Homo sapiens: one gene and its partner. The protein of the gene in region 1 interacts with the protein of each later gene in a biochemical or structural test. Each region holds a gene or a part of one and is shown on either strand. Other genes may lie near its edges.

Region 1 (7,030 bases):
ATTTTAATGAACACATTTGCTGTGATTTCAACAAGGTAAAATTATTTTAAAATGTAGACATATCTAAGAGTATTACTTTTTAAAAGGTCCAAGTACGATCAATAAATTATATAAACAATCCTCTTATGTTCATATTCATATTCTGTACTCACCGGAACAGCAGCCATAAGTGTGGGCTTCAGTACAGTACAGTCTCCTTTGCTTCCTTTTTTAATTTTGCTGGACTATATTAAAGAAAAAATAAATATGATCAGGAAAACCAACCTTAAAACATGTTGTAATTCAAGTATTAATAACAAATACAGAAGTTACACTTGGAATTTGAGCTTTTATTGCTCTGTGATTATCTGTTAACAACTATCATAACCTACAAGTCTCAAATGTAAGTATTTTAGTGCTACAGATAACTGCTTCTAGCACATTTCACCTTCCTTAGAGGAGAAACCTTGATCCAGGATAACAAGAGAATGACATTGTGATGAATCAAACATTCTTATTAATAACATACTATCAAATATAGCACAGACTATTACTACATTTTCAAAAAAACTTGATTAAGACAGATATAACACTAAAACAAAATTGAAGGTGATTTTAACTTTCTTTGATTAACAATAGGCAAAGCCACATCCTGAAGACACCACTATGAACATCAATTAACATCATACTGAAACTCTAATTTGGTAATATTCTAGTTGGTAAGATACTGAGAACACTGCCAGGGACAAAGTAGAGATACACATAAATGTGCACAAATGGCCATATAGAGGATGGTTCTCCCGATAGAACTAAGTTGCCTTTCTCCTACTTTTCTTTAATATGGATAAAGGAGATAAAATAACTCATTTTACATATGTGCAAGGATGTGCACATTTGCAAGTGGAAACCTACACAGAAACCATGTACACCACACACAGGAGGGCTGCTCTGCAGAAACAAAATGGGCTCTCATGTCCTTCAGGTCGGAGTTGCCCTCTGCATGCTACTGACCAGCTCTTGCTACAGAGAGCAGTTCCAGGATAGCAGAAGCCACAAGAAGCCCTTCTTTGTTTTTTTTACTCTTAGTAATTTTATCAGTTATTTTGTCTTCTTGTGATCATAGTAATCCTGGTTATGACAATATTGCTATCATCAGTTGGCTCCAAATGTGGTGCTTCTAGTCTCCTGCATCCTTCTGATTTCCTATGTGAAGCAAGTTCCAGTGTTTTAGATTCCTAGTAAGATTGAGAGTCTTTACAGTAAAGTTCATTTAAAAAGTAGGTGTGAATTTTACTGAACAGGCTTCTAATGTACTAGCTTAGCCTAAGAGACAGCAAGAATTAAGTCAGACCAGCAACAGACTCCAACTGTCCCTCCTTTCCCACACTGAGGCTATTGTTCTCAGAAAGGCAGTGAAAAATCAAAGAACGGCTAGTCCTGGCTTCCAAATTCACAAAGGGAAAAAAAAATTATACTCAAAGTTTACTGAAATGTTTTCTACATTTTGATAATGTCTCTGAGCATAAGAAAAACCCATGACAACAAAACATAATGATCAGAGATTTTACTAAATTTGTTTTAGAGTTTAAGCCTTAGTCTTATTGATAGGTCTACTTTGATTTCACCAGGTCAAGTTCTGCTATCAATCGGATAGTGTATTTATTCATACCATTACTATTCTAGCAGATTTTAAGTGTGAATTTATAGCTGAGTGGTATAGTCAAACACAGCAGCACCCTGTCATACAAAGATTGTGTTTCTTAAAGTACAAAGCTAGGAGTTGTTTGGAACAGAATGCGTTCTCACAGAAAAAGCCACTTTAAAAGAAGGCTGGATTCTTCCTTCAAAGAGAATCCAATGTGGTAATGACCAGGAGGGGACCCAAGGGACATTCACGGGTGCTGAAAATGTTCTTTGTTTTCCTAATCTAGACGGTGATGATCACAGAGGTCTATATGTGTATATGCTTATTAAATCTCATCAAGCAGTACACTTAATATTTGTGCACTTTAAGTCATATATCAAAAAAAAAAAAAACACAAAGGTGATTGGAATCTCAAGTCCAAAAAAAACTATTTAACTTTTTTTGTTTTAATAGTATACAACCTATCTAGCCTCTCCCTAAAATGGTATTTCTACAAATAAAGTATTACAATTTCTAACTGTGAACACTGAGGACGTATCTTACCAACTACATGCTCCATGGAGACTCTCAAACAAAAGGCAGCATTGCCTGGTGGGGGGCGGTCTGAAAAACAACAGCTGGGCCCCCAGTGTTGGAGGAGCAGAGCCACGTATAGACAAGTCATTCCTACCTATACTTGCTTTGTCTTTCAGCATCCAGAACCCCACAGCTTCTTTAGTGGCTCTTTTTTTTTTTCCCCTAAGCCTGGTTGAAGCTTTTCTACAGCAACTATTCCAAAGAAGACATAAAACAGAACTGTGGACAATAGTATTAGGTGTGTAATTTCAAATGGGTATAACATATATGAGTTAGCCCCACCCATTGTTGGGATTTCTGCTATGAACTACAGAGAGAAGGAAGAATCCTAACTTAGTATGGTGAGCTGAGACTACCTTTGGAGATGCCTCAGCCCCTACCAATAGAACTTTCTGTGATGATAAAAATATTCTTTATCTTTGCTGCCTAATATGGTAGCCGTTGGTCACACGTAGCTATTGAGAGCTTGAAATGTGGCTAAAGCAAATAAAAAAATTTTTTTCAATTTTACTTAATTTTTTTTTTTTTGAGACGGAGTCTCGCTCTGTCGCCCAGGCTGGAGTGCAGTGGCGCGATCTTGGCTCACTGCAAGCTCCACCTCCCAGGTTCACGCCATTCTCCTGCCTCAGCCTCCCGAGTAGCTGGGACTACAGGCGCCCACCACCTCGCCCAGCTAATTCTTTTGTATTTTTTTAGTAGAGACGGGGTTTCACCATGTTAGCCAGGATGGTCTCAATCTCCTGACCTTGTGATCCACCCGCCTCGGCCTCCCAAAGTGCTGGGATTACAGGCATGAGCCACCGCGCCCGGCCCTTAATTTTTATTTAAATATCTGCCTAGTGGCTACTGTATCAGACGGTACTGCTCTAGAAAAATCTCGGGAAAACTGGGCCAAGACCCTAACATATCTCCTCCCAGAAACCCACCAATGCTCATGGGTAGTGTGTCAAAAAGGCTCATTGCATTTATATTCTCTATCGTAGTTCTCAAGAGTAAAAATCTAGTAGAAAAAGATAAAAGTAATTATTCATTTTTAAATAATTTTAAGGCTGGGCACAGTGGCTCACATCTGTAATCCCAGCACTTTGGGAGGCCGAGGCGGACAGATCACTGGAGGTCAGGAGTTCGAGACTAGCCTGGCCAACATGGCGAAACCCCATCTCTACTAAAAATACAAAAAAAATAGCAGGGCATGGTGGCGGGCGCCTGCAATCCCAGCTACTCTAGAGGCTGAGGCAGGAGAATCGCTTGAACCCGAGAGGCAAAGGTTGCAGTGAGCCAAGATCATACCATTGCACTCCAGTCTGGGTGACAGAGCAAAAGAAAAGAAAAAAAAAATAATTTTAAAATATATAGCTAAAGCAATGCTAACAAATCTACAGGGTAATCTCCTATAGCTACATATTGTTCATGGAAGCTATTTTGAGGTCAAGGAGAAAGCTTTAGCTGAATTAAAATATCTCGAGTCCTAGTAATATGTTCTCAGCCAAACCATGCAGCATCATACGATCATGCCAATATACTGAAAAGTTTGTCACCTGGTCAGAGAGTGTAAGCGGAGAAGAATATCCAATCCTGCAGCCATAGGTAAAGCAAGATATCTCTGCTGTCAGTTCTAGCACATGAGCCAAAGGCAAGTAGCCAATATATGTGTCCTTCGGTCTAAAACAAAATAAGAGAAATATTTTAACCATTCTTGAAAAGGCATTTGAAGTTAGAAATACCAAGAGCTTTATCATTTTAATATAGATTGAGTTTAGAGAATGCTGAACATGAACTCTGATTTCTAAGAAGAAAGTTAAAGAATTATCTTACCCCAGTCCAGGTATTCTTTCACACTGGCCTGTCATTCCAGCTATCAAATTGCTATGATGCATCATCACTCCCTTAGGTCGGCCAGTAGAACCACTAGTATACATAACAATGGCCATGTCTGAAGGCGTTGGTCTACTTGGAGGAATGCCCACTAAATGAATGAATGAAAAATATCACATTTACTTCAGTTCAAAAGTTAAATTACTAAAGAATAATAGGATATTTAGATTTTGCATAACGATAAGCTATCAATAGACAGTATTTGCTTTAAATCATCAAAACGAGCTGGGTGAGGTGGCTCATGCCTGTAATCCTAGTACTTTGAGAGGCCAAGGTGGGAGGATCACTTGAGCCCTGGATTTCGAGACCAGCCTGGCCAACATGGCAAGACTCTGTCGCTACAAAAACTAAAAAAGTTAGCCGGATGCAGTGGCATGCACCTGCAGTCCTTGCTACTCAAGAAGATAAGGCAGGAGGACTGGGTGAGCCTAGCAGGTTGAGGCTATGGTGAGCTATGGTCATACCATTGTGCTCCAGCCTGGGCTAGAAAACAAAAATGTTTATCAAATTCTGATTACAGTGAGCATTTTGGACTCAATTTGGCCCATTTTCTGGATGTTTAACCTAATCTCTGTCTGTGCATTGCCTCTCCACAGTGTTGTATACAGAGCAATGTTGTGGAAAGATTTCTGGGACTTTGGAGTATCAGGAGGACAGAGTATGTGTATAAACTTCTTAGGCCTCAGTTTCTCATCTCTAAAATAAGACAGCTGGACAGATTGTGGTTACTAACCACTAGTGGGTATCAGAATCACGTGCAGAACTTAAATAAAATATTATTTCTGAACCCCCTTTCTGAAAATTCAGATTCAATATGTCTGGGATAGAACAAAGCTCCACAAGTGATTCTCATATATGCCCCTGATTGAAAACCACTGGATCTGATCTTTAAGGTGACTTCAATGCTAACATTTGAAGGTGATAAGTTTTAAACAGAACCCTGGAGCTTCCACTTTCAAGACAGTGTATAGTGCTAGCCTAGTAACCACTTTTCCTTCCGAGAATATACCAAAATGGCTAAGAAGCCACATATATATCATCAGAATGAAATACAAGTTTAACAGGATTATCACATTTAAAAATCTTTACACAAATTATTTACATTTTTATATACCAGTTAAAATAACATTTTTTTAAAACAGTGAGCTATACCACTGAAACAAAGATAGTTACACTTAAACTGGCTAATTTTAATGCTTTTTAAAGATATAGTCATAGTTTATAAACCAAGCAAATAAGGACTGCATATTTCCTCTGATGATTAACCAAAGCAACAGCAGTAGCTAAATTCTTCTTAATCTAAGCACATGTGATACTTTGCTTCTGCCCACTTTTAAGTAAATATGCAAAAAAGTGGCATCACAATAACTGTCTGTACCACAAAAACATATGTATCCTATCTATTGCAGACATGAGTAGAACTAAGTGGGATATGTGGCCTATTACATTATTGCTCACACAAAATTATGAAGACTGCTGACCCCTTAGCTTGCTGCCAACACCCTTTGTGGTCAATCAGCAGAACTGTAACTGATCCCTACCAATCAGGACTTCTCAGTCAAGTTTATCCCAATCTTACAGGGTCAACCTAGTGTAGAAAAACAATTCTCTATGGGTCTCATGTTCTGCACATCTTGCAAGCAGAGACATTGACTTTGTTCCAGACTATCTTTACAAGGATATTTGCACAGAGATAGTGTCTCTCCCCAGAGCAAACAGCAGGCATGCTTACTGTCCAGTACAATAAGATAATAAGATATTCAGGCTCTTTAAGCTCAGAGTTCCTCTCTTATGACACAAATGCTGATATGATACTCTGGCTACTGCTATTGTTGTGAGTAAAAAACTGTCCCTCATCTCAGACCCAAAAGTCTATGGCACCAGGAAGTTTTGCAGGCTCATCTGTTTGCCGGCAAGCAGGGTAAAATCTGACTCTCTGCCATTCTGGACACATGGCAGATGTGTATAATAACACCTGTTATTATAAACGCATGCTCATTCTCTAATGGTAAAATGTTCAGAAGCTGAGTAGAGGTTCGACCAACATTTTCTCCTGCAAAAATGAATCCTTTTCTCATTATAGTATGGTATTTTGACCATCGCATTAAACATAATAAGAAAACTCTTCAAATGGAGTATTAATTTCCTCAACTCTCTGCCCTGATGGCCAACTGACATTTTGCTACAAGGTACACTTACTTGTTTCAAATGAAATACCAACTACCACCTCAGTGGTAAAATAAATCCAAGCATTAATCTTGGTAAACAGCTTTGCATCCTCTGAAACATCCTTAAGATAACTAGCATTAAGCATTTATTTCAGAAAGTTTACTGAATGGAAGGCCTGAAATATTTTTCTTTTATGAGGCCCAAATTGGAAGGTTATAGTGGGTTATTTAAAAAATGAAGAAACATTTGGCAGCAACTGCCATGAAGTCTGAACCACAGATTACATCTCAACCACTTAGTGAAATTTACTAACTTATTTTTTTTGAGGAGAAATGGAGGGAAAATCTTAATCATATATGGTCTTGATGGTTTTTAAAGATTTTTGAACTTTTTTTTTTCAGTCAAAGAACTTTTGTGGATTTACTCATGTCATTTGTTTCCCTAACCTACCAAAATAACAAACTTGGAATAGGTAAATAAAATTGTTTTTACTGCTTTACTTACAGTTTTCTGGGTTAGATCCCAACTCTTCTACTGATTGCATGCTGTGAATCTCAAATCCTTCAGGGTACTCTGCTTTATTGATAGCCTTATTGTCCACATAAATGATATGTTTAACACAACTGATATCTAACAATGCAGTCTGTTGAGCAGAAAGAAAAAAAAACAGCTATTAAACTTAAGCCTGCAACAAAAATTCACTTACTGAATGAATATTTTTCTGTCCTGCCAGACAACGCAACCATGAATTAAAAGAAAATTTCATATTTACCTTAAGTTTACTTT
Region 2 (7,030 bases), on another chromosome or scaffold:
AGAGACGGGGTTTCATCGTGTTAGCCAGGATGGTCTCGATCTCCTGACCTTGTGACCCGCCCGCCTGGGCGTCCCAAAGTGCTGGGATTACAGGCGTGAGCCACCGCGCCTGGCCTTGTTTATTTGTTTTTTTTTAAGAGACAAGAGTCTCGCTCTGTCGCCCAGGCTGGAGTGCAGTGGCAGAATCATAGCTTACTGCAGCCTCAAACTCATGGACTGAAGCGATCCTCCTGCCTCAGCCTCTGCAGTAACTGAGATAAATGCATTTCTAATCTGAGAAAATTAAAGATAAAATCAATGAGCAAAGAAAAAAAAAACCGAGACAGAAGCAGAGAGGTGGGCACATGCGCGGGCCACTCACCTTGTCCTTGAAGTCGGTGTGGTTTTGCAGGATGGCGCGCTGGTAGGTGCCTGTCCGCACGTAGTCCTGCATCATGTTCTGCTGCTGGGACAGGTAGCCATAAAACTGGAACAGAGACATACCGATGGCACGGGGCACATGGTGGCACGAGGCAGCCAAGGCCCTGGCCAGCCCTGTGATAGAGCAAGGGGCCATCTAGGGCACAAACCTCCCTCGGGAGGTCGTGCACCCTCTGCCTGGGCCCCACTAGCAGCTCCAGGAGAGGGAGCAGGAAGCCGGAGGGCAGCCCCCAGGAGGACACCGCCACTATCACTGCAGCCGATGGCAACAGCTGATGCCGCCTGGACCTGGAAGCCGCCCAGGAGAACTCAAGATTTGCCACAGGCAGGGTTCTGGCATCGGGGGCCACCTGCCTCATCTTGAGGGCCCCAAAGAAGAAGAGAAGCAGATCGAACAGAGCCCTAGAACTCAGAGCGCCAGGCAGGTGAGGTGTGGTGTCTCTCTGTAAGACAACGGGCGATCGGGAGGCAGCGTGGCACCTGGGCAGGGGCACAGACTTTGGCATCAGGCAGACCTGGCTTCCCATCTTGGCTCTGTTGCATATAGCTGTGTGACTTGGAGCAAGTCACTTAACCTCTCTGAGCCTCAGTTTTCTCATCTGTAAAATGGGGACAATAATAGCACTTACCTCCTAGCGTTGTTGGGAGGGTCCAAGTGCTTCTGTGCATGTGACAGCGCTTAGACCAGGGCCTGGCATGCAGGGAGCGCTCAGGGCATTGTAACTGCTCTACCGTTATTCACAACGCCTGTGGCCCTGAGCTCCACCTGTGCTCAGATCCTTCCAGCAACCCTCTCAGGCAGGCACCTGCATCTCCGCTTCACAGATGAGGAAACTGAGGCCCAGCCAGCAGAGGAAACCTGCCCAAGGCTACATGGCCAGTAAGGGACAGAGCCAGGACGGGAACTTGGGTGGGCCTTCCCTGTGCTGTGTGGCCTCCTGCGGGTGAGTGGCAGGGGGGCTGCCGGGGGGAGGCGGCCTGGCTGAGGGGGAGTACAACCCACCTGGAAGTACTGCACGGCAGAAGACTCCTCCGTCCGCTCGCTGAACACAGACCGCTCCAGGGTGTGGCCCCGGCAGGTTTTCAGGATGTTGTAGAAGGAACAGAAATCTGGAACAGGGAAGCCAAGTCACCGGGGGGCGGTCAGCAACCCAGCATGTGGCCATCTGGGAGGGAAGGTTCTGGATGGCCGTATGTCCTGACGTTTCTCCCTTGAACATACAGGGCTGGTGATTTCTCTTCCCCGAAAAACAATTTTCAAAGTTCAAAGAAAAGATGAAGGGCAGCCATGCCTGCACTGTGGTGACTGACATGAGAAGAGGGCAGGTAGCCTGCATGTGGGGCTGCTGTCTGGTGGGAGTGGGCCTGGGGATTCCTCACCAAAGGGCAGCTTGGTGAAGCTCTCTCAAGCACACGCCCACCGGCCCAGGAGTCAAAGCTCTGGCAAATAAGCCCAAGTCCACCCAGAAGCTCAGGGCAGCATCTGTGTGGGGGCAGCAGACACTGCAATGTCCAGTAAGAGGGGACTGGACAAATGCCAGGGGCACAGAAAAGCACAGTAGAGGCCAGGTGCAGTGGCTCATGCCTGTAATCCCAGCACTTTGGGAGGCTGAGGTGGGAGGCTGAGGTGGGCAGATCAGCTGTCAGGAGTTCCAGACCAGCCTGAGCAACATAACAAGACCCTGCCTCGTTAAAAAACAAAAACAAAAACATGAAATAAAAAATTAAGAAAAGCATGGCAGAGAATCACCAATCACCACCCTTCCCAGAGATGCAATGGTATGTGGCCCTTTAAAGCAGGCTCTATCTATTTGGCTGGGGACAGTGGTTCTCAACTGTAATCCCAGCACATTGGGAGGCTGAGGCGGGTGGACTGCTTGAGCCCAGTTTAAGAGGCCAGCCTGGGCAACATAGCAAGACCCTGTCTCTACAAGAAATAATAAGCCGGGCACGGTGGCTTATGCCTGTAATCCTAGCACTTTGGGAGGCTGAGGCGAGTGGATCACTTGAGGTCAGGAGTTCGAGACCAGCCTGGCCAACATGGTGAAACCCTGTCTCTATTAAAAATACAGAAATTAGCCAGGGGTGGTGGCGGGCACCTGTAATCCCAGCTACTCAGGAGGCTGAGGTGGGAGAATCACTTGAACCCGGGAGGTGGAGGTTGCAGTGAGCCAAGATTGTGTGACTGCACTCCAGCCTGGGCAACAGAGTGAGACTCTGTCTCAAAATAAAATAAAATAAAATAAAATAAAATAAAATAAAATAAAATAAAATAAAATAAAATAAAGCTATATTTATTAACATAGAATAATAGCCACTAAATTATATCAAGTAAAAAACAAAACAATATTTAAAAGACAATCTCTTTAAAAATTAAAAGACACGGTCAGGCATGGTTGCTCACGCATGTAATCCTAGCACTTTGGGAGGCGGAGGCAGGCGGATTACCTGAGGTCAGGAGTTCAAGACCAGCCTGGCCAACATGGTGAAACCCCCGTCTCTACTAAAAATACAAAAAATTATCTGGGTACAGTGGCACGTGCCTGTAATCCCGGCTACTCAGGGCGCTGAGGCAGGAGAATCGCTTGAACCTGGGAGATGGAGGTTGCGGTGAGCCGAGATCGCGCCACTGCACTCCAGCACTCCAGCCTGGGTGACAGAGCGAGACTCCGTCTCAAAAACAATGAAAAGACACAGTTCGGGATGAGCAAGTTCTGGAGATGGGCGGTAGTGACAGTTGCACAACAATGTTAATGTGCTGCTTGCTACCAACCTACACACTTCAAAAGGGTTAAAATGATCACATTTTGTTATGTAGATTTTAGCACAACTTTTAAAAACTGACAGAACTGAAATAAAAAATATTAAAATACAAATAGTCTTAAGAGTGGGAACGGCCGGGTGCAGTGGCTCATGCCTGTAATCCCAGCACGTTGGGAGGCTGAGGCGGGTGGATCACTTGAGGCCAGGAGTTTGAGACCAGCCTGGGCAATATGAAAAACTCCATGTCTACTATATTAAAAACACAAAAATTAGCCAGGCACGGTGGCACACACGTGTAGTCCCAGCTACGCGGGAGGCTGAGGCATAAGAATCGCCTTGAACCCGGGAGGTGGAGGTTGCAGTGAGCTAAGATAGCACCACTGAACTCCAGCCTGGGCAACAGAGTGACACTCTTTCTCAAAAAAAAAAAAAAAAAAAAAAAAGGGGCCGGGCACGGTGGCTCACATCTGTAATCCCAGCACTTTGGGAGGCTGAGGCAGGTGGCTCACTTGAGGCCAGGAGTTCAAGACCAGCCTGGGCAACACAGTGAAAACCCATCTCTACAAAAAATTAGCCAGGCATGGCAGCTTCACACAGCTGGCCCCGAGGGCTCAGGCTGCCCAAGGTACATCTGGGTCACTGCACAGCTACCTTGAGACAAGGGGGAGGCCGGCAGTGGCTCATGGGCACGCAGCCTCTCCACCTCCAGCTGTCCTCGCACCAGCACCTGTGTCAACCACTGGACTCACTTCAGGTCTCTGGTAACCAAGCCTGCGGTGGGACCTTCAGACCATCTCCAGCCCTGGGCATTCCTGGACACCTCTCTGCTACCCTGGCTGCATCCACCTGGGGTTCTCCCACCCCTAGTCAGGAATCTTGTGTCCACCTGTGCCCCCAAGGTGGGTTGGTTAAGCCCTTCTGGTGGCTTCTCTGCGCCCTGAGCAAACTCTTCCTGCCTCTAGGACCTCGCCTCACTCCATCCACAGCTGGCCCAGTCACAGCTGGCCCAGGGCTGGCCACTGCCAGAAAGACTGGTCCCAGGTGGTCAGGATGGGCCTCTTGGAGGTGGGGACATAGAAGCCAAGCCCCAAAAGACCCGGAGGAGCCGGTGAGGGAGGGTCTGGGATCCAGGGTCTGCCCAGGCCAGAGTGTATTCTGGGCATACCTGCATGTGGGAATGTGGTTTTGAGGGCAGTGGAGCCTTCTTAAGGATGCACGGGCCACCCCTCAGCCAGGCTCTACGCCCCTGCCCACCAGGGCTCTGGGCGCTTTGGGCTGGTGTCACCGGAATGGAAGGAGGGCCACGTACCGTTGGGTGTGGCGAACTGGATGAGGACGCTGTTGCAGCCCAGGGTGATGATGAAGGACTGCTTGCCCACACGGCTGCACTCTGTCTCTCGGGACACTGAGCACTTAAAGACACACACATCTTCATCTACGAGAGAAGACAGGCTGGCGTGAGCGGTGCAGCCCTGTCAGCTGCCTTCTTTTGAGCCTGGGTCCCTGTCGCCCTCCTGCTGCCTCCCCTTGGTGCCCCCAGATTCTTCCAGAGTGCCACAAAACCACCCTGGCAGCATTGCCGGGTGCCCTGACTGCCCAGCCCACATGGAAGACAAGGGAGCGACTGATCAGACAGCAGGAACACAGCCTGTGTCCTCAGGATGATCAGGGCTGAGACGGGCATGGTGAAGGCTGAGGTGGGCAGACAGGGCCACAAGGCATGGTGCTGGCCCACAGGAACTCAGAGCTGGAGCTGCCTCTGCCCTGCTCGGCTGAGCCCTTCTGTTCTTGGATGGGCGCAGAGCAGTGACTGCATGTGGCCAGTGGAGTCAGACCGCTGGGTTCACACCCCATCCATGCCATTTGTTCACTGTGACACAGGCATGTCCCTCAGCCTCTCTGGAACTGGGGTTCTCACCATCAGATGGGGCTAATGGCGGGGCAGTGGTCTAGTGAATTAGGACACTGTCTCCCTGTACCCATCATGATAGCTGTTACCAGTCATTCATTCCACAAACCTGCAGCCACTCCACTCCAGCCAAATGGTGAAACTTAGCGATGCCAGGAACGGGCCAGCCCAATCAGGCACTGTGCCCCTGCCTGCCATACTGCAGTGGGACAGGTGCATCATCTGTAGTATTCTTGGCAAAAATGTTTGCCCTAGTCTCATCTTCAAGGGACAACAGAAAAGGACAAGTTGTGGGGCAGGCTACAGGACAACCAGCCTGGTCTCCTTGAACAGGCCAATGTCAGGAAAGACCAAAACGGTGGGAGCTATTCCAGAGTGCAGGAGACAAGAAAGAGGGGAGTGCCCAATGCAATGCAAAGTGGGACCCTGGGCTGGAGCCAAACGAAAAATGTTTTTAAAAGTTATACAGGACAACTGGGGAGGCTGGGCCCACACCTCTAATCCCAGCACTTTGGGAGGCCAAGGCAGGAGGATCACTTGAACCCAGGAGCTGGAGATCAGCCTGGGCAGCATAGCAAGACCCCATCTCTACAAAAAAATTTAAAAATTAGGCAGGCATGGTGGCATGCGCCTGTTGTCTTAGGGACTCAGGAGGCTGAGGCTACAGTGAGTCATGACTGTGCCACTGCATTCCAGCCTGGGTGACAGAGCAAGACCTTGTCTCAAAAAAATAAATAAAGGACAACTGGGGAGCTGGACAGAGTGGCTCACACCTGTGGTCCTAGCTACTTGGGAGGCTGAGGTGGGAGGATCGCTTGAGCCCAGGAGGTTGAGGCTGTAGTGAGGTATGATGGTGCCACTGCACTCTAGTCTAGGCAACAGACGTGAGATCCTATTAAAAAAAAAAAAAAAGACAACTAGGGAAATGTGAGTGTGGACTACATATTCCATAATTTTAAGTTATTTGGATGTGACAATGGTATTGTGGTTTTGTAGAGAAATGCATATTTTCTTAGAAAACATATGCGGAAGTATTTATGGCAAATTCCCATGATGTCAGTAGCTTGCTTTTGAATAGCCCATCATAACAACAACAACATGAGTGCAAATATGGCAAAGTGTTCTCAATCACCCTGAATAGCCAAAACAGTCTTGAAAAAGAATGAAGTTGGAGGATTCCCATGTCTCAATTTCAAATTTTACTACGAAGGTACAGTAATGAAAACAGTGTAGTGGTACTGGCAAAAGAAAGGAGACACAGATCAATGGAACAGAATCAGAGTCCAGAAATAAACCCTTATACTTATCCTCAATTGATTTTTGATAAGGATGCCAAGAACATTCAATGGGGAAAGAATAGTGTCTTCAACAAACACTGTTGAGAAAACTGGATAACCACAGAGAAAAGAATGAAGTTAAACCCCTACCTCACACCATATACAAACAAAACAGAACTCAAATGGAGCAATGACCTAAATATAAGAGCTAAAACAAGAAAACTCTTAGGAGAACTATTTGCAAATCATCTATTGTTAAGTATTTAGTGTCCAGAATATATAAAAAACTATTTTAGGGTCAGGCATGGTGGCTGACACCTGTAATCCCAGTACTTTGGGAGTCAGGCAGATTACTAGAACCCAGGAGTTTGAGACCAGCCTGGGCAACATGGTGAAATCCCGTCTCTACTAAAAATATAAAAATATTAGTCGGTGTAGTGGCATGCGCCTGTAGTCCCAATTACTTGGGAGGCTGAGGTGGGAGAATCACCTGAGCCCAGGAAGTTGACACTGCAGTGAGCAGAGATGGCAACGCTGCACTCTAGCCTGGGTGACAAGAATAAGAGCATGTCTCAAAAAAAAAAAAAAAAAGTCTGGGCACAGTGGCTCACGCCTGTAATCCCAGCACTTTGGGAGGGCAAGATGGGTGGATCACGAGGTC

What was found. Proteins that work in one complex are often made in the same cells at the same time.
Region 2: the proteins of ACSL4 (region 1) and CARM1 form a complex in vitro, tested with the Homo sapiens proteins (one study listed by BioGRID).

The regions. Positions count from the first base shown.
Region 1 is NC_000023.11:109,674,250-109,681,279, forward strand, and holds part of ACSL4 (long-chain-fatty-acid--CoA ligase 4), read right to left. Parts: coding exon 7,017-7,030; intron 6,888-7,016; coding exon 6,749-6,887; intron 4,167-6,748; coding exon 4,016-4,166; intron 3,863-4,015; coding exon 3,739-3,862; intron 225-3,738; coding exon 153-224; intron 1-152. UniProt on the Homo sapiens protein: Catalyzes the conversion of long-chain fatty acids to their active form acyl-CoA for both synthesis of cellular lipids, and degradation via beta-oxidation. Preferentially activates arachidonate and eicosapentaenoate as substrates.
Region 2 is NC_000019.10:10,902,539-10,909,568, reverse strand, and holds part of CARM1 (histone-arginine methyltransferase CARM1), read right to left. Parts: intron 4,619-7,030; coding exon 4,493-4,618; intron 1,531-4,492; coding exon 1,424-1,530; intron 1,020-1,423; exon of another isoform or gene 775-1,019; intron 467-774; coding exon 362-466; intron 1-361. UniProt on the Homo sapiens protein: Methylates (mono- and asymmetric dimethylation) the guanidino nitrogens of arginyl residues in several proteins involved in DNA packaging, transcription regulation, pre-mRNA splicing, and mRNA stability.